7 linked regions of the Homo sapiens genome follow. The protein of the gene in region 7 purifies or fractionates together with the protein of the main gene of each other region. This does not show direct contact. Each region holds a gene or a part of one and is shown on either strand. Other genes may lie near its edges.

Region 1 (4,266 bases), on a different chromosome or scaffold from region 7:
GAAATTCAAATATAGACTGGATGTTAAACGACATGAGGGCATTGCAGTTCGTTTCCTTAGATACAATAATTATACTGTAGCTGGAAGAATGTCTTCATTTCTGTGACATACTTTATTTAGGTCTATAGAGGTGAATTGTCATCTTTCCAATTTATTTTAAAGAGATTTTGAAAATATTATATGTATTTATGCAGATATACCCACATAAACATTTGCCATAAATATTTGGCAATGTGGCAAAGTGTTAACAATTTTGAATATAAATGGTTATGTTGAATCGTGTATTATTTTTATCAAATTTTCTGAAAGTTTGAAAATTATCATAATAAAAAATTGAAGGACTAATATTAAAACTGCATTTTCTTAATGTTTCTATTTGGATATGATGGAACTGTATCATTAGGCCAAATTCACAAATTTTATACACTTCACATTTCAATGGTAGATCTTTACTCATTGGCTCTAAGTTGTATAAAAGAATAAAAAAGTGTAAATTAGCAAAAAGGTAGAGTGACTTTAATTTTGAATTTTTTTGTGACATTTGGGGGAAGTCAATTTGATCAAGGAGGCCTGGAATCATTAACAATAACTCAGGGGGAAAAAAGGACTTATCCCTAAGCTATGAAAAAACCATGCATAGAATAGATGTGTTTAAACAACTGATTGGATGACAGACCCCAAAGAGAAGTAGCAGACTAAGACATGGGCAGTGATAGGTCAGGTCTATGTTCTGCTAAAGTTCCTCAGTGTTGATTTCATCCACTGTGAACAGTTACCTCCATAAACAGGTAATTTTTCTCTTTTTTTTTGAGACGGAGTTTCACTCTTGTTGCCCAGGCTGGAGTGCAATGGCGTGACCTCGGCTCACCGCAATCTCTGCCTCCTGGGTTCAAGCGATTCTCCTGCCTCAGCCTCCCAAGTAGCTGGGATTACAGGCGTGTGCCACCAAACTCAGCTAATTTTTTGTATTTTTAGTAGAGATGGGCTTTCTCCATGTTGGTCAGGCTGGTCTCAAACTCCCAACCTCAGGTGATCCACCTGCCTTTGCCTCCCAAAGTGCTGGGATTACAGGCGTAAGCCACTGCACCCGGCCTAATTTTTCTCTTTCTGACATGGATGACTTTCATTGTCTGCAGCTAATTTTTAGTATATCTATGCCCCTGGTCAAGAATTGTTGAAACATCAAGAAGAGGCATTCAGACATCCAAATTCCATGTAAACCCCTAGCACCTCTCTTCTCTTATTCTAACTCTCTGTTCACGTACAGCTCATTTCATCTTTTCCTAGCTTCATATCTATACACCATTCCCTCCAAATCACCTTCACCCATGCACTTTCTGGTCATCTTTCATAGCTTAGAGGTAAGTCCACCTTTCCTTGAGTTCTAATTGATGATTCCAGGCCTCCCTGATCAAATGGACCTCCCCTAAATATTACACACGATTCAGCATTAAACTCATTCCAATTTTTCCCTAATACTTTTCCAAGCAGGGTACAAACAAGAAATCTTCACGCCTTTCTTGACAGAAGCTTTGCTCTCTAGATAATCTTCTACTTCACAAAGATAACTGGGACAAAACAAACAGATATTTGGCAATAGGACAGGAAGAGGGGGCATGAAGAACCGAAAGGAGAGAAGGCCAAGGGAGCTCACCTGGTTGCAGACAGGCTTGTACTTGAGTCCTGGCTTGTTGAGGATCATCTCCAGCTGCCTGCGGTTGAAGTTTGACACCCCAATGGACTTGGCCAATCCTGCATCCTTACACTTCTCCATGGCCTGTGGAGAAAGGGGTTGTGAGGAATTATTTGTGCAGTTGGCTGCAAATCACGGTAAATGCAAGACAGAACTGTGAGAGCAACAACTTTCAAAGTATGACAATGAAAATAGCTAGCAGTGATTGTCAAAAAAAGAAAAATTCAAACAGCAAATAGGGGAAGAAGATAGAGGCAGCAAGAGTAAGAATTTCTATCTCTTCCTTAGGAAACTGGATAGATTAATGCACAAGCAAGGAAAGAGATTCCTGTCCTCCTTGCCCCCAAGTCTTGTGCCCCACTCTCTAAACATTCCTTTTGTGTTTTTCCCTTCATCTCACCAAAGCTACTCTTGTAAAGTTTCTGAATTTCTAGATCTAATGGTGCATATTCCATTCTTTCCTATTGAACCTGGGAAACAGATTTTCTCTTTTTGTCATCCTTCTCTGTGTCCTCTCCGCCAAGCACTCACCTCCCAGGTGGTACAGAGATCCACTATGTCAAATATTACTTTTCCATTTTCATCTGTTGGTGAAAGTTCCTCACCTGGCTGAAATAGAAGCAGTCATTTTAATGATGTCACAAATTAATTTCTCCACTCATAGCTGTAACCCCAGGTACCTTTAAGGACACTAATCCTCCATGAGACAGGTGGTACAATGCTCCAGAAAGTGATATGTGCTAAGTGTTTTACATATGAAGGTATAAGGAATGTATTCAGGAGACAGGCTTCCTCTAATCTCTTACAAATATTATATGCATGGAAAAGGACCATTTTCTAGGTCTTAATCAAGTTTCACAGTTGACTTATGTCACTTTATTCCGCCCTTATAATTTCCTCTATTGAAGTACCTCTCTTTGATTTGGAAATACCTTGATATCCAAAAATAATGGATTGTACTCTTGTACACGGTAGGATTATCAGACCACCTGAAGAGTTGATAGTCTTTGGGCAGGACTGTGAATCACATAGGGTCAGCAGAAGTTGGGAGACCCAGAGGAGTTGTCTTATGGTGATGACCATGAGCCTTGAGCTGCTCCAAAGCCATAATCGCCACCAATGAAAAAGTTTGGGTCAACAATAATAAAAAAAAGTGTTGGAGTTTAGAGATAAGAATAGACAAATGATACATTTTTGTAGACTATTTCATATCCTTAAATGTAGCCATGTCTTTGACTTCCCATTTTACATAACTCAGTAAACTCTTTTGCATTAACTAGCCTGAGTAGTTTTCTGTAACTTTAAATCAAAAGTTATACACTACACAGTAATTCCTGGCTAAATACAGCTTCAAACTCTATTGTGAAAGAAGAGGCAGCAGAATAATAAAGCTTTGCAAGTCCACATTAAGGGTTTCTAATTTAAGAACCATGCATAGTGGCTTCCACCAAATCTGCTTCAGCTTGAAATGGGGAGAGATGGTGGAAACTCATTGTGCATCACATGTGCAGCAGTTTTATTGGGCACCACAACTGCATGAAACTCTGTGTCTGGGAACATCCCAAGAGATGGACTCAAAAGCCACAACTAAGACAGTGCCTTGAAAGAGACTATTGTAATTTCAAGTTTTTGAGGAAGAGGCTTTGAGGTTGCTGTACTCTCTTCTCTTGTAGGTGTGCATTAGAGAAGTAGGATTCAAAATTTACTCGAAAGAAAGGAAATTAGGTGTTCCACTTACGGTTCTTCTTCTGTGTGATAATCCCTACATCCTCCTAATAAAAAGCTCTGTTCAACTATCCAGATAAACAATGTTTATAATGACAGCAGAAGCGCAATTTTATGCTCATACAAACTGCATACCTTTAGAGACATTGGAGAATGAATAAGATAGAGGTCAACATAGTCCAATTGAGCTTTCTTCAGTGAGTTTTCCAAGGCTGGTCGGACCAACTCTGGTCGATGAAAAGTGGACCAAAGCTGCAGAGGTTAAAGAATGGAGGTGATTTTGAATGAATGCTTGAGCAAATCTTATTACTTTGTGCCATCTAGTATTTAGATATTTTCCTACTGCTTCAAAATTTATGACCACTGGCAAACATATTCTCTTCCTTCTCATGATTCCTTTGGCTCTGACCTATCCTTATAAACTTTATTATACGTTGGATGTATAGTTTGTACATCTACTGAATGATAGGAGTAAATTCTTAAAATGTAAAGATTAGTATTAAGTAATAACTATGATGTTACCTGAATTATCTTCAGTAGAGTTTACAACTCATTTTAACAGTCTAATTCTTCTATCCATTCAACCCAATGCTTAAGAATAGCTATTTATGTTGCTTAGAAACTAAAGCAACATAAAAGGGGGGTAAAACAAGTTTTGAACATGCTCACTATGCTGGACACAATTTAGGACAATTTAAGTGTCTATTATTTAATACTCCCAGAGCTTTCTTATATTGCTTTCTATCTCACTGATAAAGATAGCAATTGAGAGAATAATAAGAAATCTTAGAAAATCACCCAGGCGATAAGAAAAACCATAACATGATTATTGTTCTCTGTGATTCTAT
Region 2 (4,266 bases), on a different chromosome or scaffold from region 7:
AGAAAACTACCCTGGAGCATTAGAAAAATTCAACAAGAGACTTGATTTAATCAATCACATTGTCGGACTTTGAAAATATATCAAAGGCACTGATTTTTAAAAATCATCTTTTTCTCAAGAAGAAAATGGAAAAACAAATTATCTTCATTCAGTGAGCCCCAAGTTTGGGGTTTGAGGGGGCTTACAGACATTGAAAAATCAAGTCTTGTGTTATATTTTTCTCCCAGGTGACTTTTTTTGAGGTTTATGGGCAATCTGGCTGGTAAGACATGATTCCCTCTAAGAAAATATAGGTGCTCAAACAGGTAACCTCTCCTGCTACTGTTTTTATATGTGTGTTTAACTTCATTTAAGATTTGTTTCTGCTTTGAGAAGCATCTGTTCATGTACTTTGCCCACCTTTTAATGGGGTTTTCTTTTTCTTGTAAATTTGTTTAAGTTCCTTGTAGATTCTGGATATTAGACCTTGGTCAGATGGATAGATCGCAAAAATTTTCTCCCATTCTGTAGGCTGTCTGTTCACTCTGATGACAGCTTCTTTTGCTGTGCAGAAGTGCTTTAGTTTATTAGATACCATCTGTCAACTTCTGCTTTTGTTGCTATTGCTTTTGAAATTTTCATCATAAAATCTTTGCCCATGTCTATGTTGTGAATGGTATTGCCTAGATTTACTTCTAGGGTTTTTATAATTTTTGGTTTTACATTTCAGTCTTTAATCCATCTTGAGTTAGTTTTTGTATAAGGTGTAAGTAAGGGGTCCAGTTTCAATTTTCTGCATATGGCTAGCCAGTTTACTCAGCACCATTTATTAAATAGGGAATCCTTTCCCCACTGTTTGTTTTTGTCAGATTTGTTGAAGATCAGATGGTTGTAGATGTGAGGTCTTATTTCTGAGATCTCTATTCTGTTCCATTGGTCTATGTGTCTGTTTTTGTACCAGTGCCATGCTGTTTGGTTACTGTAGCCTTGTAGTATAGTTTGAAGTTGGGTAGCATGATGCCTCCACCTTTGTCCTTTTTGCTTAGGACTATCTTGGCTATATGGGCTCTTTTTTGGTTCCAATTTTAAAGTAGTTTTTTCTAATTCTGTGAAGAATGTCAATGGTAGTTTAATGGGCATAGCATTGAATCTATAAATTACTTCGGGTAGTATGGCCATTTTCATGATATTGATTCTTCCTATCCATGAGCATAGAATGTTTCTCCATTTGTTTATGTCCTCTCTTATTTCCTTGAGCAGTGGTTTGTAGTTCTCCTTGAGGAAGTCCTTTGTATTCCTAAGTATTTTATTCTCTTTGTAGCAATTGTGCATGGGAGTTCATTCATGATTTAGCTCTCTGCTTGCCTACTGTTGGTGTATAGGAATGCTTGTGATTTCTACATATTGATTTTGTATCCTGAGACTTTCCTTAAGTTGCTTATCCACTTAAGAAGCTTTGGGGCTGAAACGATAGAGTTTTCTAGATATTGGATCATGTCATTTGCAAATAGACACAGTTTGACTTCTTCTCTTCCTATTTGAACACACTTTTTATTTCTTTTTCTTGCCTGATTGCCCCAGCCAGAACTCCCAATACTATGTTGAATAGAAGTGGTGAGAGAGAGCATCTTTGTCTTGAGCTGGATTTCAAGGGGAATGGTTACAGCTTTTGTCCATTCAGTATGATACTGGCTGTGGGTTTGTCATAAATGACTCTTCAGACATTTCTCAAAAGAATACACTTATGCAGCCAAAAAACATGAAAAAAAGCTCAACATCACTTATCATTAGAGAGCTGCAAATCAAAATCACAATGAGATGCCATTTCATACCAGTCTGAGTGGCAATTATTAAAAATTCAAGAATTTTTGAATTTTGAATTTTTAATATGCTGGCAAGGCTGTGGAGAAACAGGAACACTTTTACACTGTTGATGAAAATGTTAATTAGTTCAAGGATTGTGGAAGACAGTGTGGCAATTCCTCAAAGACCTAGAACCGGAAATACCATCTGACCCAGCAATTTCATTACTGGGTATACACCCAAAGGAATATAAATCATTCTATTATAAAGATACATGCACACATATGTCCACTGCAGCAGTATTCACAATAGCAGACATGAATCAATCCAAACGCCCATCAATGACAGACTGGGTAAAGAAAATGTGGTACATGTACACCATAGAATACTATGCAGCCATAAAAAGGAACAAGATCATGTCTTTTGCAGGGACAAGGATGGAGCTGGAAGCCATTATCCTCAGCAAACTAACACAGGAACAGAAAACCAAACACTGCATGTTGGAAGCTGAACCATGAGAACACATGGACACAGAGAGGCAAATAACACACACTGGGGCCTGTCAGGGAGGCGGTGAGAGGGAGAGCATCAGGATAAACAGCTAATGAATACAGGTCTTAATACCTAGGTGATAGGTTAATAGGTATAGCAAAACACCATGACACATGTTTACCTATGTAACAAACCTGCATGTCCTGCACATGTATCCTGGAACTTAAAATAAAATTAAAATTTTTAAAAGATTTGATTTTGTTGTACTAGGATTCTTTAAAATGTAATATACTGCAGAAAATCCATAATATCTCTAGTACTCAAAGATGAACTAGATAAAGTAATGGATCTGGGAAAGGAAGAGAGAGGATGGGGCAAGAGACAAATGGACAGCAGTTACCATTCAGTGTGATAAACTCTTCAATACACACTCATTAAGAGTACTACTCAGAGTATTTTCTCCTTTTATCTATTTTTTTGCTTATGAAGAATGTACTTTTATTTTTTAAAGCAATTTCTCATCCTGATCTTTTCTTTTCCTATTGCCACCACACCACTTCAGACTTTCATTATATTATACTGGTTTCTCCATGTCAGACTTCTCATCCTTTTACTTACCCCTTCTGCCAAATTAGTTTTTCAAAGTACAATTCTTATGACTTGAAGACATTATTTAATGATCCTTTACCAATTATTACATGTTATTATACCTACAAAATAAAGGATTAAAAACTGAACAGAGTATTTACTGAGAGTCTGGAAGAAACCAAATAGTTTGTTCATCTCTCAGTAAACAGATATTATATTATTATTTCCACTTTACAGATTAGGTAGCAAAAATTAAGTGTAGGTAATAAGTGGTGAGCCAACTAGGAAGTGGTGGACTGTAGATTTGAACTCATTTTTGTCACCATTATGCCATCACGTTCTAGTCTCTTACTGTGGCTATCTGAGTCAACAGGTACTTTTTAGTTAGACACAAACTTTGTTACAGCCAACTACTGTCCAGACAGACAAAAACAAAAAGCATTACTCTGTCCACTTCTACTTTACTGTACAAATCATTCCCTCTACCTAGACTTCTACACTGTAATAGTTAAAATTTTAATAATTTGTGCATCTTAAATGCCACTGCCATCTTTCTATTAAATCTTTCTCTTACAGCCCCAAATGCATGTGACTACTTCTTCCTCTCAATTCCTACAGTACTGACAATTTATTGATTGGGTAATGTTATTTGTTATAGATTTCCTGAGTATTTGCTCTGTGCCAGGCATTGTGATAGGTTCTGGGAAATAAAAAGAAATATATACTATCATTGGCTTTGAAAAGCTATTAGTTATACCACATTAGAGCACTCATCACAGCCTGGCTGGCATTATAGTTACCACTTTAAGAATCTCATTGGCCCTTTCAGGTTGTAAGAAATATGTAAGGCAGATAGATCTTGCTTTACTTATCTGCACATCCCCGTGAACATCTATAATAATGCGTAGCACATAGTGGGGACTTAAAAAATACTTGCTAAAGATTGAATGATGACTGAATGATACATGATTCACATGTTTGGAATTCTATCTTCTAACTACTTCATAATCCCCTAGACTAAGTTGGGAATCCCTTCCCTACACTCTTCCTAGTCCTCCCATAATGCTCCATGTTTATCTCTATTAGAGTTAAACATCAACGTTAAACATGGAAACACAGAAATATAGAGTTAAACATAATGAGGAAACTAAGGACCAGAAAGGTGATGTTGTTATGCTAGAGGCCACGCTGCTTTCAACAAAGTGGAAACTAACGCCAAGACAGAATAGAATGGATTTTATCCATTATATCATGTTGTCTCTCATGACTCAACAGACAGTTCAGCACTTCAATAAACACAAAGAAAGTTTATTAGTTTACCCAAATCCCATCTATAAAGAATTTCAATGTGCATTTTAATGTTATTTAGAACATAATGGGGATACTTAATTTGCTTTTTAATTT
Region 3 (4,266 bases), on a different chromosome or scaffold from region 7:
ACTGAGTAGTTTTGTTGGTAAGAGGAGCTGTCTTTTGAGTGGGTATTTAGACTCGCACCAGACCACGAGTGTGGAAGTGTGGAAGTGTGAAACTGCCTGGGCCTAGCAGGTCAGTCTATAAAAATCAGTTTTTGGCCGGGCGAGGTGGCTCACACCTGTAATCCCAGCACTTTGGGAGGCCAAGGCGGGGTGGATCACTTGAGGTCAGGAGTTCGAGACCAGCCTGGCCACCCACGCAAAACCTTGTCTCTACTAAAAATACAAAATTAGCTGGGTGTTGTAGCCCCAGCTACTCAGGAGGCTGAGACAGGAGAATTGCTTGGACCCAGGAGGTGGAGGTTCAGTGAGCCAAGATCGTGCCACTGCACTCCAGCCTGGGTGACAGAACAAGATGCTGTCTCAAAAAATAATAACAATAGTTTTCATCTTTCATCTCAGCATTCATTCGAGATTAATTCTGAAATTAGAAGCATGCTCTGCCTGACCCAGGTTGTCTGAAAACAACCTGTGGGTGTGTCCACTTCTATGCGAAAATAAGTAAGTAAAAGATTTGCAGCAAGTTAACCATTTTAAGATAAGAAGACGTAAATAACATAACTTTTTTCCACTTCCTGCTGGCAGCAGAAGAGCTAAGTAACAGAGAGAGCCTCCTTCACCTGTAACTCCTCTTCAGGAGGCAGGGAGCCACGGGAAAGGTGACCACGCTCCCTTCCCCACTCTAGCAAAGCTACTTCATGTGGATGGGCCTCTTTTGATATCCCTGGGCCTGAGCCCGGCCACGCTCTGCAGCTCACGCACTACACAACAGCGGCCAGAAGGTGGCGCCGGGGAGGCATCCACTCCCGACCGCCTTTTGCTAAATCGCGCAAAAGCATGGTCTGGACAAAGCATCTCTCAGCTCCATTGTTCCCAGAGGCAGCTGGCCACTGCCTTTTGAGTTTATGTCCTTTTGTGTTGTCCTAAGTCAATATTTAAAGGCGTTTTTAACTCTAAAAGTAGTTGAAAATACCACAATGAGGAACCATTAACCCAAGAAGGAATCATTAGTATAACTTTATGATCCACTTCAGATGGTCCCAGGCCTAACGATGGTTCCACTTTCATTTTTTGACTTTACAATGGTGCACAAGCGACACTCATTCAGTAGAAACTGTTCCCCAAGTACCCAGACAACCATTCTGTTTTTCACTTTCAGTACAGAATTCAATAAACTGCATGAGACATTCAAGACTTTATTATAAAATAGGCCTTGCGTTAGATGATTTTGCCCAACTGTAGCCTGATGCAGGTGTTTCGGGTCGGCCAGGTGAGGCTATGATGCTTGGTAGGTGAGGTGGATTAAATGCATTTTCGACTTGAGATATTTTCCATTTATGATGGGTTTATCAAGACTTAGCCCCATTGTAAGTAGAGGAGCATCTGCATTATTTTTAAAGGCTATATTTCCTATGTGTCTTTTTTGTTTTCGTTTATCTATTGGTCTGAATGCTTCTATATCATGAATTTAGCAAGCAGTTTCTATATACAGATATAATGTTATTTCATTGCTGTAGTAACTTTGGTTTGTTTTGGCCAAAAATGTATAAATTGCTATTTCGATTTTAGAGTGTGTTTTCCTTGGCTTTCTTTCCTTTTTTTTTTTTATTTTTTATTTTAAGAGACAAGGTCTCACTCCCTGTCATCCAGGTTGGAGTGCAGTGGTGCATTCACAGCTCACTGCAGCCTCAAACTTCTGGGCTCAAGTGATTCTCCTGCCTCAGCCTCCTGAGAGGCTGGGACCACAGGCATGTGCCAGTACACCCAAGTAATTTTTTTCTTTTTCTTTTGACAGAGTCTCACTCTGTTGCCTGGGTTGGAGTGCAGTGGCACAATCTTGGTTCACAGCAACCTCCACCTCCCGGGTTCAAGCGATTCTCCTGCCTCAGCCTCCTGAATATCTGGGACTACAGGCGCCCACCACCACGCCCAGCTAATTTTTGTATTTTTAGTAGAGACGGGGTTTCACCATATTGGCCAGGCTGGTCTCGAACTATTGACCTCATGAGCCACCCACCTCGGCCTCCCAAAGTGCTGGGATTATAGGCGTGAGCCACCACGCCCAGCCTTAAAATTTTTTATAGAGACAAGGTCTCTCTATGTTGCTTAGGCTGGTCTCGAACTCCTGGGCTCAAGCCATCTGCCCATCTTGGACTCCCAAAGTGCTAGGATTACAGGCGTGAGTCATCGCATCTGGCTGCCTTTGCTTTCTTTCTTAGTGTGTGTGCATGTTTGTGTACAGTTAGAGCAATTTGTATCTTGGAAAAATCAGTCTTTCTTTCTTTCTTTCTCTTTCTTTTTCTTTTTTTTTTTTTTTGAGACAGGGTCTTGCTCTGTCACCCAGGCTGGAGTGCAGCGGCATGATCATGGCTCACTGCAGCCTTGACCTTCTTGGGCTCAAGCGATTTTCCCACCTCAGCCTCCGGAGTAGCTAGGACTACAGGTGCACGTGACCACGCCCAGCTAATTTTTGTATTTTTTGTAGAGACAGGGTTTTGCCATGTTGTCCAGGCTGGTCTCGAACTCCTGAGCTCAAGTGATCTGCCTGCCTAAGCCTCCCAAAGTGTTGGGATTACAGGCATTAGCCACCACCAGAAAAATATTTTCATAGATGTTGCTCATAAAAATCTTGTGTGATATTGATCATCATTACATTAAAAAAACAAAAAAAGCTATCCCCTTCATCCTAGGTGAAGAAATGGAGAATTTAGATTAGGTGGCTTTCCCAAAGTCACACCACTGGGACCCAGACCTCTTGACTCCCGGTGACATCCTCTGGTTAACTGCATGACAAACCTCCACCTCTATTTTCAGATTCTTAAAACCCATTTCCATAAGATGGGCAGTCTTCACATTATTGGGGGTTGTGTTACACTGGATGGGGAGGCTTGTGATTGTTGTCACTCTTCCACCCCTCCCTTCTGCATGGAGTAAAAATGCACAAGGCAGATTTACCATAGACGGACACCCCTGCCCTGAATTCTGAGTATTTCATCATCAAATGATGGACAGCAGTTCCACCCCAGCAGAATCCCACGATGCCAATTTTCTGGGCATGACACTGTTGTTTCAGATACTTCAAGATAGCACTGATCTCTCTAGAACAGAAAGAAAAAATATTCAAGAATCAGGCTTATTTTGTGAACCCCTCAAAGAGCTGTGCTGATGATAACAGGGCTGTATCAGCAACTGTTTTTGAAGTTGCCAAGGTTTCTTCTTTTGGGAGCTCCACCCTTACTACCTCTGGCCCAACTGATGCATCATCCCAGCACATCTTCCTGCCAAGCCCAGCCCTCCTCCAACTGCCTGACAGCTGCAGGCAAGCTGGGCTCTTCCCAAAACATAGGTCCAACTGCCTCACTCCCAGCTGAGAGCTGAGCAGTCTTCCACAGCCTGGGGATGAAGGCCACAGCCCACAGCACGGTTCGTAAGACCCGAGTCCATGATCTGCTCCCTGCAGAGTGCCCCAGTCTTCTCTGTCCCCTGAGTCTCCCAGGAGAAGAGTCTCCTCTCTCCTCTCTCCCATGAGCAGCCATAACTATGGGCAGACGCCCAGACACTCTCTGACTTCACACGTTCACTCTCTCCCCAAAACTCCCCACTCTGCATTGCTCGTCTCCTCCCCCTGCCGCCCAGTGAAGCCAAATTTGGAACGCCATCAGGACTATTTCAGCCATGAGGGGACCAAGAATAGTGGCCCTTGTCTGGCAAATGATTCATGTGCAAACTGATTGTTTGGAACTCAGAATACATTTTCAACTAGAAGCAATGTACCAAAGTGGAGGTGGGCTGCACACGTATGTTTATTGTAGCACGATTGCAAAGATATGCAACCGAAGCGCCCATTGACCAATGAGTGGATAAAGAAAATGTGGCCTATATACACCATAGACTATACTCAGCCATAAGAAAGAACAAAATAATATCTTTTGCAGCAACTTGGATGGAGCTGGAGGTCATTTCTCTAAGGGAAGTAACTCAGGAATGGAAAACCAAATACTGTATGTTCTCACTTATAAGTGGAAGCTAAGCTATGAGTAGATTCACAGAGGCACATAGAGTGATATAATGGACTATGGAGACTCAGAAGGGGGAGGGTGGGAGGGTGTGAGGGCCAAAAAACTATATATTAGGTAAACTGTACACTACTCGGTGACAGATGCACTAAAATCTCTATTTTCATAGATGGTGCTCATAAAAATATTGTTTGATATTGATCATCATCACATA
Region 4 (4,266 bases), on a different chromosome or scaffold from region 7:
GGGACACCACAGACCACATGAAAACACCAGGAGGAAAGTCTCCCCCTATCCCACTGGCAGAGGAGGGGAAACCTTCCCCTCTTCCCAGGGAGGAAGGTGGAGTTCCCCAAACACTCCCAAGACCCTCTGTGGGGTATTAAGGAGGCTGGGAGAGCCCAGGCAGGCTCTGCCCTCCCAAGTTCACCATCATGGAGCAGGAGGACAGACAAGGACAGACTGTTGTGGGACACCATGCTGAGCCCATGACAGAGGTGACCATAGGGAGCTCTGAGATTTCAGTAATGCGAAGGCACTGGCGGGAGGGGGTTTGGCTGTTTGCTATTACAAGTCTGTAAAAGGCAGGGAGAAGCAGGATAAGAGGCTGGAGGGACATGGGGCTGGGTCATGGTAAACACAGATACCAGTCCACAAGAGGACAGGAAGAAACAGAGGTGAAAAGCCCGCTCTGAAACCAGCAGGACCGGTATGTGCCCTGGGGCAAGGCTTTCACCCTCCTTAGGCTTGTTTCCTCAGCTTACAAATGGGCTAATGGTGAGTGTATGCCTAGACTGCTGTGACGAAGACTGAGTTAACACCTGCAGGGCTCAGCTGGGTGCCCGATGGGCATTCGACATCATCATGGGGCCTCTGGCCTGTTAGATGCTTTCCTCTACATGGCAGCTTCGGATCGGCTCTTCATCTCCAGGGCTCCAGACCCTCCAGGAAGAACCTTCCCTAAATTTCCTGCCTCCTCCTCTCTTGCTGCTCAGAGGCTGCTCAGCTGTGCTAGCAAAGGTGGCAGTGGCAGGATCTGGATGGCAGGATTTCTACTATAGAGAGAGAACCCAGGCCAGTGCCAGCCAACCTGGGGTGGGCTCATTCAGAGGGCAGTGGCCCAGCTCAGCCCCTAACATGCCCTGGGACAGCAGCTGAGCCACCTCTAGGTCTGAGTCTGTTCTTCACCTGCTGAATGGGAGGGAAGGTAAATGGCCTGCAGGTCTGGGGTGTTCAAACCACAGGACCTCAGCTCCAAAGAAATCAATGATGCCTAGGAGTCCCCTGGGGAGAGGGGCAGCGGCTCAGGCACCCTCAGGATGACCAGCCTTGGAATGACCCTTTTCTCCCCTTGGTCTCATGAGCCCTCATATTTCCTTTCCCACAGTGGGGACCAAATCTCATTTGAGGACCAAAAGGGGCCAGGGCCAGAGAAGACGACTTCTCCATGTGACTACCCACAGCTCCTGCAGAAAACAGGGAGTGACCTTTGACCCTTAGCATCTGCCTCCACTTCCTCTCTTGGCAAGGGGGATCTTGTTGCTGCAAACCCACACACCTTGAGCAGAGGGTAGGAGAGGTGGTAAGGGGCAACCATCACCTAGCAATGCTTTGGAGGACACCGTGTCGCTCTGCCTGCCTATCTCATCAGTATCCAGGACCACCTAATGAGGGAGAAATCCTTGAAGCAATTTTGCGGAGAAGAAAACTGAGTCTCAAAGTGACAGCATTTGCCCACTGTTACTAGAGAGTAAGGCAAGAGACCCAGCCCTGGGCCTGGTCCAGGGCTTTCTGGAGGCAGTTTCAAACCTAGGCCTCCGATGGCCTTAGTGTCATGCTCTTCTCCAGCCCCTGCCTCGGCTGGCTGTCCCACTACTCCTGTTGTCCTCTCCTCCCCTGCTGGGCCGTGCTGTGAGGGGAGGAGGGGAGTGAGGAAACTACTGTTCTCCCCTCTCCACTCCCAGCCACTGTACAGAGGCAGCATTCACTCTCCTCCCCACCCCAGACCCTCTTACCTGGTGCAGCTGGTGGGTAGCCACCTGGGGGCGGGGGATAGCCAGGGTAGCTCATGGTTAGATCTGGAAGAGAAGACGAAAGCACATTCAGGCTCTGCCTGAGAGCCCCTGCTGGCCCGTGGGACCCAGCTTCTTGAAAGGGCAGCCACCACCACAACTGGGACCCTGCAGAAGAAACTGCTGCATCTGCCCTGCTTGTCGCAGACCAGTTCACTGTCTCCTGCTGGTGCCTCCAGCTAGAAACAGTACCCACCAGCATGCTGCCTGACTTCTGGGCCAGGGCCACACCCCCGGCCCCACCCACAGTGACAGGATTCACTCCCCATGAGCCAGTTTCCTTGAAAGGCCCTCTCACTGAAGCTTTGCTCCTGCCTCTGCTGGCAAGGGTGCAGTGCGCCTCTGGGCCTGTTCTCCCACCTCAGAGGTAGAGACGCACTGCCTCATTCTCAGGACTCCAGGTCTGTCTATTTATCTTCCTGTGTCCTTATTGCCATCCCTCCAGCAACAGGGGAAGTCAGAGGCCCCTGTCTCTCTTCATTCTCCAACCTCTGGTTCATCAGGCAAGGGGACCTGGTAAGGTATGGAATCATCGTTCCTAGAAGCAAAAAGGGCCCTCAGGAGGTTCATCTGATGCAGGGTGAAGAACCAGGGCAAATGAGGCAGCATCACCCTGTTTCTGCAGTAGAGGCTGCTGATTAAGAGAAGTAAGTGATTTGCAGATCTGTCAGTAAGGGAGGAAGAGCAGCCTGGACAGGTGCCAGGTGAGACACCTGCTCTCACGAAGTCCCTCTGAACACGGATCCCTTGGCAATGTCCCCTGCCAGTTAAATTGTGAGGAGGGACACAGATCTGCTGTGACACCAGCCACATTGTGCAACCTGCCTGCTCTTGCTAATAGCAGCTGCTGCTGCAGTCTGCAGAGACACCCAATGGCAGGCGGACATGTGAGGAAACCTGCAGGGTCCCTCAACAATCACACCTGCTCGTCTCGAGTATGTGGCTTCTTTTTACACACTGGGTTTCACGCTGCAATGCATATCAGAATCACCTGATGGGATTGTTAAAACACATTGCTGGGCTCCACCACCAAGAGTTTCTGAGACAGTGGAACCAGTTTTTGCATTTGGAACAAGTTTCCAGATGATGTTACTGGTCCAGGGAACTCACTTTGAAGACCACTGTTCTAGCCACGCTATCCAACTATAAGAGTCTAGCTGCCCTTCATATCTATCTTGAAGAACTGGGCATATTGGGTTTTGTTTGTTTGAGACAGGGTCTCGCTCTGTCACCCAGACTGGAGTGCACTGGCACAATCATGGCTCACTGCAGCCTGGACCTCCTGGGCTCAGGTAATCCTCCCGCCTCAGCCTCCTAAAGACATGTGCCACCACACACAGCTAATTTTTTTTTTTGAGAGTCTTACTATGTTGCCGAGGCTGGTATATGCTGTTCTTTTTAAGTTTTTTTATTATTTATTTTTATTTTTTTGAGACAGGGTCTCACTCTGTAACCCAGGCTGGAGTGCAATGGTGTGATCTCGGCTCACTGCAACCTCTGCCTCCTGGGTTCAAGTGATTCTCCTGCCTCAGCCTCCCAAGTAGCTAGGATTACAGGCGCCCGCCATCATGTCTGGCTAATTTTTGTATTTTTAGCAGAGACAGGGTTTCACCATGTTGGCCAGGCTGGTCTCGAACTCCTGACCTCAGGTGATCTGCCTGCCTCGGCTTCCCAAAGTGTTAAGATTACAGGCATGAGCCACCATGCCTGGCCTACTTTTATTTTTTAAACAGCGTCTCACTCTATCACCCAGGCTGGAGTGCAGTGGTGCGAGCTCAGCTCACTGTAACCTCCGCCTCCTGGGATCAAGGGATTCTTGTGCCTCAGCCTCCAACAGGAGGGCGCAACCATCCCTGGCTAATTTTTGTATTTTTAGTAGAGATGGAGTTTCGCCATGTTGGCCAGGCTGGTCTGAACTCCTGGCCTCAAGTGATCTGCCCGCTGCGGCCTCCCACAGTGCTGGGATTACAGGCATGAGCCACTGTGCCCAGCCTACATGCTGTTTTTAAGGAAGCTAAAGAACTTCCTTAAGGTACCACCGGTCCCCATAGGGTGGGCCTGGTTTTCAGCCCTACGGGTGTAGTCATTTGTTTGGGTCAGTGGGTCCAGAGGTGACCGTAGGCAAAGCCCTATGGCTTTGGAGAAAGCTGGAATTGGCTCCCTGTAGTGTGGACCAAGGACCTACTCCTTGCAGTTTTCGGTCTCTCTGAGCCCCTAAGCACGTGGTGGATGAGGTCCCCGGTGGCATCACCTTCAGAGAGGGTGTCCCTGAGGCTGGGTGGGCTGTCAGTACAAAGCCCTCCCCGTCCCGGCCCCAGCCTGACCCTTCTGCCCAGACTCTGCCAAACCCTCAGACTTCACTGGTGAGGAGGTAATCTGGGGGATGTAAATGACCAGTAGGCCAGGAACCTTCTAATAGAAGGAACTGCCCGACAGGTGA
Region 5 (4,266 bases), on a different chromosome or scaffold from region 7:
AAAAAAAAAAAAAAAGAGGAAGGCAGGGATGGCTGGGCGCGGTGGCTCACGCTCGTCATCCCAGCACTTTGGGAGGCCGAGGCGGGCAGATCACTTGAGGTCAGGAGTTCGAGGCCAGCCTGGCCAACATGGTGAAACCACATCTCTACTAAAAATACAAAAATTAGCCGGGCGTGGTGGCAGGCGCCTTGTAATCCCAGCTACTCGGGAGGCTGAGGAAGGAGAATCACTTAAACCTGGGCAGCGGAGACTGCAGTGAGCCAAGATCGCGCCACTGCATTCCAGCCTGGGCAACAGAGTGAGACTCTGCCTCAAAAAATAAATAAATAAATAAAAAATAAATAAAAGAAAATAAAAAAAAGAGGAAGGCAGGGATGATGGGAGATGAAGGTGGGGAGTCAGGGAGCTATGGTGAGGGCTTGTATTGATTGTAGGCACCCAAGAAGGCTTTCAGTGGATGAATAACCTAGTCAGATACACATTTTAAAAAGACACCTCTGGCAGTAGTGTGGAGAATGGATGAGCAAGGCCAGAAGGCAGGAAGCAGGCAGGGGAGCCCAGTGAGGAGGTGGCTGCAGCCATCAGGCATGAGTAGATGACCCCTGAACCAAGGCAAAGCAGGAGGGCGGGGTCTGAGAAGGATGTGTGTTGTACATTTGGGAGGAGAAGCACCAGGACCGGGCAACTGATTGGGTGTGGAGAAGAAAAGGGGACGAGTCTGGGAAAATGCCTGTATCTGGGCTTAGGTAGCTGAGGGGATGGCGGGGCCTTCTGAGATCAGGGAACACTGGAGAAAAAGAACTAGCTTCTTGGGGAAGGGCTGGAAAGGTCCAGTTACTGGGTGCTGCCAGGCAAGGGAAGGCTGGAAAGGGCTGGCCAGTCTCCACGTCCCCGGTGGAAGCCCACCTTGTGTATAAGCACCGTGCCGCACAGCCCCCGCCGGCCTGCCTTCTTCAGGACAGTGAAGGCGCTGTCGTCCCCAATCACCACCATCTCCACCGGGATGCCTTCAGCCCGGGCCTGCTCCCGGGCCAGGCCGAAGTTGAGCCGATCCCCAGTGTAGTTCTTCACGATAAGGAGCGTCCCCACTGCGGGAGCAGCCGGAAGGGCTCAGTGTGCTTACTGTGCCCTCCCTGCCGCAGCCCCTCCTGCATGCCAGGCTTACCTGTGCCGGCCTGGGCCACGGCCCTGATGGCTGCCAGGATGCTGCCCACTGCCGGGGAGGTGAACACAGCTCCCGCGATGACCCCAGTCAGCATCCCCTTCCCTATGAAACCTGGAGGTGGAAGGAGTGGAGTGAGCATGCTGGGTGGGACTCGCGCCTGTAGTCACTGGGGCTTCCCACACTCCGGGGGTCATGGTTTGGTGAGCCCTACTGTGTGCTTGGTGCTCAAAGATCCCCCAGGTCTTCACATGGCTGACTCCTTCTTAGGAGGCATCTTAGAGAGGCCTTCTGTGACCTCCCAGCCTGAAGCAGTCACCAGCTCCCTCCCCAGGGACTCACTGTTCCTTTGCCCCATTTTACTGTCTTTACTAAGTCACTTAGCACCCTCTGAAATGATCTCATTTACTTTCGTGTTTACTTGGTTATTGTCTGTCTCCCCTAAGTAGAATATAAGCTCCACGAGGGCAGGGACCTTGCCTGTCTGGTATCCCTAGTGCCCAGTACAGCGCCAGGTACACAGTGGGCTCATGAGTGTTTGCCAAATGAATGGATTTTGCTGAAGGAAGACAGGAAGCAGAGAAATGACGCGCATCCTAGTCCCTGCCCTCCAGCAGCCCTCAAGGAGAGTCTGCGTCCCTGGCTCCACACAGGAAAGAAGCCAGGACAGTCCACAAGTGGGACACAGCAGGTGGGAATTCAGAAGAGGGGTGCTGCTGTAGGCTGGAAGAGTCAGGAAGCCTTCATGGAATCGGGGTGGGTCTGCTGGGCTTGGAGGGTCCAGAAGATTCATGGAATCACCGACTCTCAGAGCTAGAAGGACTTGAGAGATTGTTTGGCCCAACTTCGTAGATTTGTAGATGTAGAAACAGATTCAGAGAGGCCGTGATGGGCCCCTGATCCCAGCCGGAGGGAGTGGGAGAGTGGGAAGTACCCCAGTTCCTGATTCTGGGCTGAGCTCCATCCTGCACTTCATGGCAGCACTAAGGATCCCCCAGGAGGCCCTGTCCACTCCACTAGTACCCCCTGCCCCACCCCAGGATACTCACCAGCATGGGCAGGCTCATGGCCAGAGCCCCCACCCGACAGCAGTGCCACCCGGCCCTTGAGGCTGTCCAGGTCAGAACGGAGGGCCACGCGGTGGCCCTGCAGGAGCTGCAGGTTGGGGTTGCAGGCCACCAGGCCAGCAAGAGCGTCATCAGCACAGCCAGCCACCGAGTTCACCAGCTTCTTGGAGGTCTGCAAGGGAGGAGTGAGAAGGAGGTCAGAATGTGGTCAGTACAGATACCCCCATCCTGCGCAGCCACACTGCTGTGGTGTAGACCCCTCTCCCGCATCCACCTAGGAACTCCAGGAGCACAGGACTTCCTTGAGTTGGGCGACATCTTAGGTGGGTATTTCTGTGAGTTTTCAGTAATGTGTGACTTTCTATTCAGTACCTAATTTATGAAGTGTCTTGCACCATACCTTCAATTTATTCTGAAAAAATGGCTGCAATACAAAGAAAATGGGGGAGTGGTTGCCTGCAGTGTAAAATATTTTAATAAAACTGGGGCCCAACACCTTCTTCTGTCAAAAGGAAGAAAAGCCTCAGGCTGAGGCTCCTATGCTGGGGGAGGAGCTGAGCAGGTTCCACAGCCACCGCTGCTCCCTGGTGCTCCAACGCGGGGCAAACATTTCCCCAGCCTCTTGGTATGCCAGGCCCAGCACTAGACACTATGTGTAGAGATAACAGCTCAGGTGCAGTGGCTCATGCCTGTAATCCCAGCACTTTGGGAGGCTGAGGCAGGCAGATCGCCTGAGTCCAAGACTTTGAGACCGGCCTGGGCAACATGATGAGACTCCATCTCTACAAAAAATATGAAAAATGATCCAGGCATGGTGGTGCATGCCTGGAGTCCCACTAGTCGGAAGGCTGAGGTGGGAGGATCACTTGAACCTGGGAGGTCATGGCTGCAGTAAGCTGTCATCGTGCCACTGCACTCCAGCCTAGGTGACAGAGTGAGACTCCATCTCGGAAATAAAAAAAGAGATAACAATGCTGTTCCTGCCCTCAGTGGAAACACAGCAGAGGTCACAGCCATGTGTAGTGGGCACTGCTACACGAGGAGCGCACGTGCACCATGGGAGCATAGAGGAGGGGCCGCAGCCTCCCGAGGGGCCTGGAGGTCTCTGGGAAGGATAAGCAGGACCGGGGTAGGGAAAAAGGGGGCAGGAGACATGGGAGGAGGGAAAAGGGAGGCTCTTCCAGCCAGAGGGGGAGCATAAGCCAAGGCCTGGATGAGTGAATAGTGTGGTGGTGCCAGGAAGCACGGGTGACCAGCAGGAAGGGGTGGGGAGGAGAGGACTGGCCACAGGCAGCCTCAGGAGGGGTTGTGGACAGGCTGGTGGAGGGTTACAGAGCAGTGCCGCCAGGCTTGGCTGAGTGGATACAGGGTGCAGACAGAAGTGAGTAGCGTGGGGGCCAGAATGGAGTGTGGCTTGAGCTCTGCTGTTACAGGGACTTGGGTTCAAATCCCACTTCTGCCTCTCATTAGCTGCAGGAACTCAGGGAAGATACATCATTGTCGGGAGCTAAAATTCTTCCTCTGTAAAATAGGGATTTACTAGAACAGAGTATATGCCCATGATATAGTGGAAACTCAATCAAATGAAGCTACTCCCTTTTTCAAACAGGCTGTGAAAAGCCAGAGTCTGCTGAACAAGGGCTGCAGCCCCTGGCTTTGTCCTGAAGACAGAGTGAGACTGGGGCCCAACGTGGACTCAGAGGGCTGGGCTCCCACCGCCACCTGGTGGCCCGGTGGGAACCTGCAGCTGAGCCAGGTCCTGGCAAGGTGAACTTCCGGCTGTGGCTTCTTCCTGAGCTTGCTAGCACCAGCTCCTTTGTACAAAATTTGGCTCTGCTGCCTCCCTGCCAACCTGTCCTGCATCCAGCCAGGGCCAGGGCTAAGCCACCTGCTTCAGAGTAGCCTAGGTCTGTAGGGAGCAAGAAGAACAATAAGATTGGTTCCATTTGCTGAGCAGTGACTAAGAGCCAGGCCCAGTTCTAAGTGTTTTTGAGCATGTCTCATTTAATCTTCCCAACAGGCCGGGTGTGGTAGCTC
Region 6 (4,266 bases), on a different chromosome or scaffold from region 7:
GCTGCAGTGAGCCATGACTGCACCACTGCACTCCAGCCTGGGGGACAGAGTGAAACCCTGTATCAAAAAAAAAGAAGCGTACATGTAAGGAACTATGGCAAAATTTCAACAGTGACTGGCTTTGGAGAATAGGAACTTGAGGGACTTTTTGGCAAGTTTTCTATATTAAGCACATAGAACTTTTATTTAAAAAAATTAGGCCGGGCGCGGTGGCTCACACCTGTAATCCCAGCTCTCAGGGAGGCTAAGAGGCGGGAGGATAGCTTGAGCCCAGGAGTTCGAGACCTGCCTGGGCAATATAGCGAGACCCCGTTCTCCAGAAAAAGGAAAAAAAAACAAAACAAAAGACAAAAAAAAAAAAAGCGTAAAAAAATTAAAAAAAACAAACAAAACTTTTTTTAGCCTCTCTGCCCCCTATGCCTCCCTTCCTCTATTAAGAAGTTTCTTCTTGGCTGGGTGTGGTGGCTCACGCCTGTAATCCCAGCACTTTGGGAGGCTGAGGCGGGGGGATCACAAGGTCAAGAAATTGAGACCATCCTAGCCAACATGGTGAAACCCCATCTCTACTAAAAATACAAAAATTAGCTGGGTGTGGTGGTACGCGCCTGTAGTCCCAGATACTCAGGAGGCTGAGGCAGGAGAATCACTTGAACCCGGGAGGCAGAGGTTGCAGTGAGCCGAGATTACGCCACTGCACTCCAGCCTAGCGACAGAGCGAGACTCCGTCTCAAAAAATAAAAAAATAAAAAAAATTTCTTCTTTAAACTCAAATTGCAAAAAGTTCGCTGTAACCCTGCCTCCAATACTACCAACTGGGAACTACCAACTGAGCAAGCCTCAGTCCATCCACCCAAGTAGGCCTCATCAAAACACGTGCACACCTACATGTTCGCTATGTACACACAGATTCTCTCTCTCTCTCTCACTCACTCACTCTACCTGTTTGGCCTGGTGGTTATTGACAACATTGATTCTCATTCCGGCAGGATGGGGATGAAGTGGTGCCATGGCTTTCTGCTGTGGAACCTGGAAACACTCAGTGGTCAGAATCCACCCCACAGGGTCCACATGCATTCTCTAGAAGAAGGGGGTTACTGAACTTGATACATGGTGGGCATGCAGCTTTGGTCTTTGGTAAAAGGCACTACAGAGGGCCTTATCCTCCACAGTAGGAAGTAACAGAAGAATCATCAATCCAGAGACCATGCCGGTAACGCACATGTAGGGCTTAATGGACTTGGCTCAGTAAATGTTTGCTGTGGCCGCTGCTGTTCCTATTACCAAAGCTGCTATGAAGGTTAAATGACATTGTTTCCTTTCCCTCTGTGGTGGCAGCTGTGAAGGGTGGCCAGGGCCTTGGACTAGGGGCCAAATCCCACTGGGCCTGGGGGTGGAGTGAGGACTGTAAGGTCACAGATATTAAGGGCCTGCCACATAGCATGTGCTCAATAAATCTTTTGTCCTTTCCTCTCTCTTTCTTCCACCAGTATCTCACCTGGGAAAGTCACCAAATTTCTATGGGCCTCCTTTTTCTTTTTTTTTAGAACTGAGATAATACCTTTCCTTCCTTGTATAGTTCCTTGGCTATAACGTACTTAAAGCCTCTGTAAGGAGCAAAGTCTGTATTATGCCAACACTTGAGAGGATAGTATTTTTGCCCAGTCACTCCTGGCACCTTGCCTCTAAATCTACCTTTGTTACTAGCTTTCTGGGAATTCATGACAAAAGCCACAACTCACCTGGATGGTTTTGGTGAGCTTCAGAGCAGGGGTCACTGTCCCAATGGGTGGGTTTATGAAGGCAGCAGGGGAACTCCTCTTCAAGCTGATCTTCTCCCGGGCATCAGCAACCTGGCGGGGCTTCTGGGGCACCGTGGTCTGCTGCTTGCGAGAGTTCAACATCTCTCTGGCATCCTGCACTTTCCCTTTGATTCGAAATCGGGCATCTTTCTGCAAAAGCTTCTCCCGGGCATCCTTGACTCCCAGTTTGAGCCGGGCATCTGAGAGGCCAATCTTCTGCCGGGCATCAAATCTCTGCTGGAAGGTGGCTGTGCGTGTTGACTGGCTGAGAAGGCCTTGCTGGATCCCAACTCGAGATCGGACACCTCCAACTCCCGGTCTGGCATTAAGCCTGTAAATATAAATTGCAATCAATATTAAGTGGATCTGGGTATCTACAGCAGTCTATGAAAGCGGAACTGTGGTAACACTGGGGACAGAGGAGGCCCTGGAGAATCAGAAAGCGGCTCCTTGCCTGTGATTGAATAAACGATTATGCCTACATGATGACTCCTTTCCTGGTTTCATGATGGCTTTTAACTTTGCATTTTAAGCAAAATTAAGAGAGAGGGGCTGGCAAGTTTTATTCCTAGTTAAGAGTGTTTTGCTTCCTAGACCACGTGTCTTGAGACACCAACATGGACAATAACTTCCCAACAATGCCAGTCAAATAAAATAAACATCCACCAAATCTAATCCCACTCATCTGAGGAGTAACTTTAGTTTCCAAGGCCCATCCCCATCCATGTTCTCACTCAGCCCTCTCAGCACCCTGAGAAGTACTTACTATGCCCACTTTACAGTGGGAGAAGCAGGTTTGGAGAGGCTCAATGATTAACAAAGAGTGTCTCTAAGGAAGGCAGACACCATCTACTGGGCTAAGACCAAGAGAGCAAACATATGGGTCTGGCTTAGAGCTAGAGGAAAACAGAAAACACAAAGACTTGGTAGGAAAGAAAGAAAAAATTGCAATAGCAAAAATATCAAATACAGAAACCACTGAAATTGGAAATGATCGGGTACAGGGTTCGCTATTTGGGTAATGGGTACACTAGAAACCTAATCCTCACCAGTATGCAATATAATCCATGGAACAAACATGTACATGTACCCCCTGAATTTAAAATAAAATATTTTTTTTAACTGGAAATGAATGAAACTCCATAAACAGGCCCCGGTCTCTTTCTTGGGTTCCTCTGTTGGCCTACAGTGGCTTGAAAGTGAACAGAAGGCCCTCCTGAGTATAGCGCTGGAGATCCTCCCCAAGGTCTTTGGGCTTCTTCTGTCGCCTCCCACCCTCAGGCCTCTCTACAATAGCTACCCTCAACGGCCACTCATGCGGCAGACGCTCTGCCTGCGGACTCCTATGTCAAGGGGTGCTCTTTGGGAAACCCTCCCGGATTTCTCCAGGCCAACTCTCCTCTGTGCCTATTATTATACCTGCTTGTTTCCTTTTTTCTCTCCCTACCCTGGGTGGGGCGGGGGGAGGAGAATGGGGTTCAGTCCTTTTGCAGGGCCCAGCACCTCCTAAGCAGCATCGAGCCCTGGCTGAGTGTCAGAAACTCCTGTGGAGCTTCTTAAATACAGAGCTGTCCAGATCCCACCCTAGATGCTGAATCCAAAATCTGGGGCGAGGCCTGGCCATCTGCATTTTTAACTCCATGGGTGATTCTGGAGAAGAGCCATGTTGAGGATCTCTGACCTGCTGTTAGAGGGTAAACTCTGCTGCATAAACGAGTTCCTGTATTGCCTCCCACTTCACTGCCTGGACCTCCCAGGAGGCATCTCTCATACTGGGTCAGTCACTGGCACTCTCCCACTGCTGCATTCCAGTGGCTGGAGTGAGATTGGCTGTCAGTTCCTCTGCTAATGAATACCAGAAGTGCAGCCAAAGGTGAGTCTACCTGGTACCAATAAAAGCAAACGTGGACCTTCATCTTGTTATCCCTCAAATAATGGAAAAACACCTGCTGCCTCCAATATGCCAGTACCAAACCTAAGGCGGTAATACAGACTGAACATCTGTGTCCCCCCAAAATTCCTCTGTTGAAGCCTAATCTGCAATGTGATGGTGGTAGAAGGTGGTGGCCTTTGGGAAGTGATTAAGTCATGAGGACAGAGACTTCACAAATGGGATTAGTGCCCTTTATAAGGAAGAAGCCCCAGAAAGCTCCTTGGCCCCTTCCACCATGTCAGGACTCAGCAAAAAGACCATCTACAACCAGGAAGCAGGCAGGCCCTCATCAGACATGGAATCTGCCAGCATCCTGATCCTGGACTTCCCAGACTCTCTGTGACAAGGAAGTTTCTTTTCTTCAGTTTTGTTTTGTTTTGTTTGAGATGGAGTCTTGCTCTGTCATCCAGGCTGGAGTGCAGTGGCGCAATCTTGGCTCACCGCAAGCTCCGCCTCCCGGGTTCATGCCATTCTCCTGCGCCAGCCTCCCAAGTAGCTGGGACTACAGGCGCCCGCCACCACGGCCGGCTAATT
Region 7 (4,266 bases):
TCATTTGCCCCAGGCCACCGGTCTGTAGACCATCTAGGCTGGCACTCCTGCAGAGTCATATTATGTAGCTCAGGGGAGCCAAAGTATGAAGTAATATAAACAGCAAATAGGACAGACTTGTGTGTTCTTTTCCCTGGAGCTGTTTCATTAACTTCTTGTCACCAAGGGGATGTGGAGGGAAGTGAAGTTTGTTATTGCTTTTTCTTTTGCAGAGTAAGAAGGCAGTGCTTTCCATCACCACTGGTGGCAGTGGCTCCATGTACTCTCTGCAAGGGATCCACGGGGACATGAATGTCATTCTCTGGCCAATTCAGGTACCTCATTTTCTTTTCTTTTCTTTTTTTTCTTTGAGACGGAGTCTCACTCTGTCATCTAGGCTGGAGTGCAGTGACACCATCTTAGTTCACTACAAGCTCCGCCCGCTGGGTTCGAGCAATTCTCCTGCCTCAGCCTACTGACAGGCACCCGCCACCACACTCGGCTAATTTTTGTATTTTTTAGTAGAGACGGGGTCTTGCCATGTTAGCCAGGCTGGTTTCAAACACTTGACCTCAAATGATTCTCCTGCCTCAGCCTCCCAAAGTGCTGTGATTACAGGCGTGAGCCACTGCACCTGGCCAGGTACCTCATTTTCAACGAACCTTCAGGGGAATTCATTCATTGAGCCTTCGTGGGGTTCAAAACCTCAAGATAGCATCTGAAAATAGATCTTGAGTTGTGAAGATGAAAGCATGGTCATAATTCAGAATGATGGGAGCCTCCTTTAAGAACCTGCCTGCCTTCCCAGGTGCCTGTGTGTGAACACACCTGCGTGTGCATGTGTTCAAACAGCATTCTGTCCCAGCCAAGGACTAGTGTGAATCACTACTCTTGATTTGTATAGCCGTGGGCCCTGGTCTCACCAGATGACTGACATCTCTCTCCAGCCTTCCTGTCCTTCTCCAGGTTGCTGATACAGTCCCATAGACTATTAGAGCCCAAGACAATTTAAGAAATGATTTACTGGGAGGCTGAGGCAGAAGGATCGCTTGAGCCCAGGACTTTGAGACCAGCCTGGGCAACATATAAGACCTCATCTCTACAAAAAAAAAAAACAAAATTAGCTGGGTGTAGTCATACACCTGTGGTCCCAGCTACTTGGGAGTCTAAAGTGAGAGACCCAGGAGTTCGAGGCTGCAATGAGCTATGATCACACCACTGCATGCCAGCCTGGGATACAGGGCGAGACCCTGTTTCGAAGAAAAAGGAAATAATTTAGTCCAGCCAGTTTATACATGGATAAAACTGAAGCCTGGGGTGGGCTTATTGGTGTTACCAAACCCTCAAGATAATTTCTATAAAGAGGGAGGTTGGAGAGAAGAGCCAGTGAGTGGCCACTTATGAAAATCATTTATCAAGACTCATCTGGGCCTGTAATCCCAGCACTTTGGGAGACTGAGGCAGGCGGATCACTTGAGGTCAGGAGTTCGAGACCAGCCTGGTCAACACAGTGAAACCCTGTCTCTACTAAAGATACAAAAATTATCTGGGCATGGTGGCGCATGCCTGTAATCCCAGCTACTCGGGAGGCTGAGGCAGGAGAACCGCTTGAACCCAGGAAGTGGAAGCCGCAATGAGCCGAGATCGTGCCATGGCACTCCAGCCTGGACGACCGAGCGAGACTCTGCCTCAAAAAAAAAAAAAAAAAGAAAAAGAAAAAAAGGACTCATCTAGTTATATGGAGAGGCAGAGAAATGCACCCACGCAGGTCTTGGTGAGTCACCTGCCAAGAAACTGAGACTCCCTAAAGTAACAGAACTTCCAGCCTTCTTGGCAAAGGATCCAGGTTGGCACAGTTTCAAGGTTTATGCATTTAAAGAAGAACACACCTGAGAAGGCTAAAATTGGTAACGGCTAGGTAGAGGGTAAGAGAGAGACGCTAGCTCTGAACTGATTCTCTAGTGTGCCTGAGGCCTCCTTATCAGAGTGTCTTACTGAGAAGCCCAGACCAACTTCTGTTGTTTATAGTACAACTGCATGGAATTGGTTGACTTACCTCTCTGTGCTTTCTGTATCCTCAGAGTGGCATTCTGCATTTCTGTGGCTTCCAAGTCTTAGAACCTCAACTGACATATAGCATTGGGCACACTCCAGCAGACGCCCGAATTCAAATCCTGGAAGGATGGAAGAAACGCCTGGAGAATATTTGGGATGAGACACCACTGTATTTTGCTCCAAGCAGCCTCTTTGACCTAAACTTCCAGGCAGGATTCTTAATGAAAAAAGAGGTACAGGATGAGGAGAAAAACAAGAAATTTGGCCTTTCTGTGGGCCATCACTTGGGCAAGTCCATCCCAACTGACAACCAGATCAAAGCTAGAAAATGAGATTCCTTAGCCTGGATTTCCTTCTAACATGTTATCAAATCTGGGTATCTTTCCAGGCTTCCCTGACTTGCTTTAGTTTTTAAGATTTGTGTTTTTCTTTTTCCACAAGGAATAAATGAGAGGGAATCGACTGTATTCGTGCATTTTTGGATCATTTTTAACTGATTCTTATGATTACTATCATGGCATATAACCAAAATCCGACTGGGCTCAAGAGGCCACTTAGGGAAAGATGTAGAAAGATGCTAGAAAAATGTTCTTTAAAGGCATCTACACAATTTAATTCCTCTTTTTAGGGCTAAAGTTTTAGGGTACAGTTTGGCTAGGTATCATTCAACTCTCCAATGTTCTATTAATCACCTCTCTGTAGTTTATGGCAGAAGGGAATTGCTCAGAGAAGGAAAAGACTGAATCTACCTGCCCTAAGGGACTTAACTTGTTTGGTAGTTAGCCATCTAATGCTTGTTTATGATATTTCTTGCTTTCAATTACAAAGCAGTTACTAATATGCCTAGCACAAGTACCACTCTTGGTCAGCTTTTGTTGTTTATATACAGTACACAGATACCTTGAAAGGAAGAGCTAATAAATCTCTTCTTTGCTGCAGTCATCTACTTTTTTTTTAATTAAAAAAAATTTTTTTTTGAAGCAGTCTTGCTCTGTTACCCAGGCTGGAGTGCAGTGGTGTGATCTCGGCTCACTGCAACCTCTGCCTCCCAGGTTCCAGCAATTCTCCTGCCTCAGCCTCCCTAGTAGCTGGGATGACAGGCGCCTGCCATCATGCCTGACTAATTTTTGTATTTTTAGTAGAGACGGCGTTTCACCATGTTGGCCAGGCTGGTCTCAAACTCCTGACCTCAGGTGATCCGCCTACCTCAGCCTCCCAAAGTGCTGGGATTACAGGCGTGATCCACCACACCTGGCCCTTGCAATCTTCTACTTTAAGGTTTGCAGAGATAAACCAATAAATCCACACCGTACATCTGCAATATGAATTCAAGAAAGGAAATAGTACCTTCAATACTTAAAAATAGTCTTCCACAAAAAATACTTTATTTCTGATCTATACAAATTTTCAGAAGGTTATTTTCTTTATCATTGCTAAACTGATGACTTACTATGGGATGGGGTCCAGTCCCATGACCTTGGGGTACAATTGTAAACCTAGAGTTTTATCAACTTTGGTGAACAGTTTTGGCATAATAGTCAATTTCTACTTCTGGAAGTCATCTCATTCCACTGTTGGTATTATATAATTCAAGGAGAATATGATAAAACACTGCCCTCTTGTGGTGCATTGAAAGAAGAGATGAGAAATGATGAAAAGGTTGCCTGAAAAATGGGAGACAGCCTCTTACTTGCCAAGAAAATGAAGGGATTGGACCGAGCTGGAAAACCTCCTTTACCAGATGCTGACTGGCACTGGTGGTTTTTGCTCTCGACAGTATCCACAATAGCTGACGGCTGGGTGTTTCAGTTTGAAAATATTTTGTTGCCTTCATCTTCACTGCAATTTTGTGTAAATTTCTCAAAGATCTGAATTAAATAAATAAAATTCATTTCTACAGACCCACACTCATTGGTATCAGTGAAGCTAATGATAGTGGAATCTAGTGGGAGGCAGATCAGAGGATTCAATCACAAACTGCAGCTGGAAGCCCCTTGGTGACTGGCTTGACAACTCACCCAGCAGGGCTGCTTCCTACTAAATGGTAATAGAACAACCTATTCAGTCCTCTCAGGGAATTCAAAGGAAAGAGAGTGGTATAGAAATCAAGAAAAACAGGCTGCGTGCAATGGCTCACGCCTGTAGTAATCCCAGCATTTTGGGAGGCAAAGGCGGGTGGATCACCTGAGGTCAGGAAACCCAGTCTCTACTAAAAACTTAAAAAATTAGCTG

The links.
Region 1: the proteins of NQO1 (region 7) and AKR1C3 fractionate together in Homo sapiens (co-fractionation; one large-scale study listed by BioGRID). This does not show direct contact.
Region 2: the proteins of NQO1 (region 7) and LYPLAL1 fractionate together in Homo sapiens (co-fractionation; one large-scale study listed by BioGRID). This does not show direct contact.
Region 3: the proteins of NQO1 (region 7) and CMBL fractionate together in Homo sapiens (co-fractionation; one large-scale study listed by BioGRID). This does not show direct contact.
Region 4: the proteins of NQO1 (region 7) and ANXA11 fractionate together in Homo sapiens (co-fractionation; one large-scale study listed by BioGRID). This does not show direct contact.
Region 5: the proteins of NQO1 (region 7) and TKFC fractionate together in Homo sapiens (co-fractionation; one large-scale study listed by BioGRID). This does not show direct contact.
Region 6: the proteins of NQO1 (region 7) and POLDIP3 fractionate together in Homo sapiens (co-fractionation; one large-scale study listed by BioGRID). This does not show direct contact.

The regions. Positions count from the first base shown.
Region 1 is NC_000010.11:5,096,838-5,101,103, reverse strand, and holds part of AKR1C3 (aldo-keto reductase family 1 member C3), read right to left. Parts: intron 3,671-4,266; coding exon 3,554-3,670; coding exon of another isoform or gene 3,506-3,553; exon of another isoform or gene 2,928-3,505; intron 2,303-2,927; coding exon 2,225-2,302; intron 1,778-2,224; coding exon 1,655-1,777; intron 1-1,654. UniProt on the Homo sapiens protein: Cytosolic aldo-keto reductase that catalyzes the NADH and NADPH-dependent reduction of ketosteroids to hydroxysteroids.
Region 2 is NC_000001.11:219,193,937-219,198,202, reverse strand, and holds part of LYPLAL1 (lysophospholipase-like protein 1), read right to left. Parts: intron 1-4,266.
Region 3 is NC_000005.10:10,283,363-10,287,628, forward strand, and holds part of CMBL (carboxymethylenebutenolidase homolog), read right to left. Parts: intron 3,135-4,266; coding exon 2,992-3,134; intron 1-2,991. UniProt on the Homo sapiens protein: Cysteine hydrolase. Can convert the prodrug olmesartan medoxomil into its pharmacologically active metabolite olmerstatan, an angiotensin receptor blocker, in liver and intestine. May also activate beta-lactam antibiotics faropenem medoxomil and lenampicillin.
Region 4 is NC_000010.11:80,171,038-80,175,303, forward strand, and holds part of ANXA11 (annexin A11), read right to left. Parts: intron 1,833-4,266; 5' UTR 1,825-1,832; coding exon 1,770-1,824; exon of another isoform or gene 234-1,769; coding exon of another isoform or gene 1-233. UniProt on the Homo sapiens protein: Binds specifically to calcyclin in a calcium-dependent manner. Required for midbody formation and completion of the terminal phase of cytokinesis.
Region 5 is NC_000011.10:61,336,076-61,340,341, reverse strand, and holds part of TKFC (triokinase/FMN cyclase), read right to left. Parts: intron 4,139-4,266; exon of another isoform or gene 4,093-4,138; coding exon of another isoform or gene 3,952-4,092; intron 2,402-3,951; coding exon 2,212-2,401; intron 1,277-2,211; coding exon 1,166-1,276; intron 1,089-1,165; coding exon 907-1,088; intron 1-906.
Region 6 is NC_000022.11:42,601,031-42,605,296, forward strand, and holds part of POLDIP3 (polymerase delta-interacting protein 3), read right to left. Parts: intron 2,131-4,266; coding exon 1,740-2,130; intron 1,078-1,739; coding exon of another isoform or gene 1,027-1,077; coding exon 940-1,026; intron 1-939. UniProt on the Homo sapiens protein: Is involved in regulation of translation. Is preferentially associated with CBC-bound spliced mRNA-protein complexes during the pioneer round of mRNA translation. Contributes to enhanced translational efficiency of spliced over nonspliced mRNAs.
Region 7 is NC_000016.10:69,709,076-69,713,341, reverse strand, and holds the end of NQO1 (NAD(P)H dehydrogenase [quinone] 1), read left to right. Parts: intron 1-212; coding exon 213-314; intron 315-2,060; coding exon 2,061-2,366; 3' UTR 2,367-3,941; downstream 3,942-4,266. UniProt on the Homo sapiens protein: Flavin-containing quinone reductase that catalyzes two-electron reduction of quinones to hydroquinones using either NADH or NADPH as electron donors.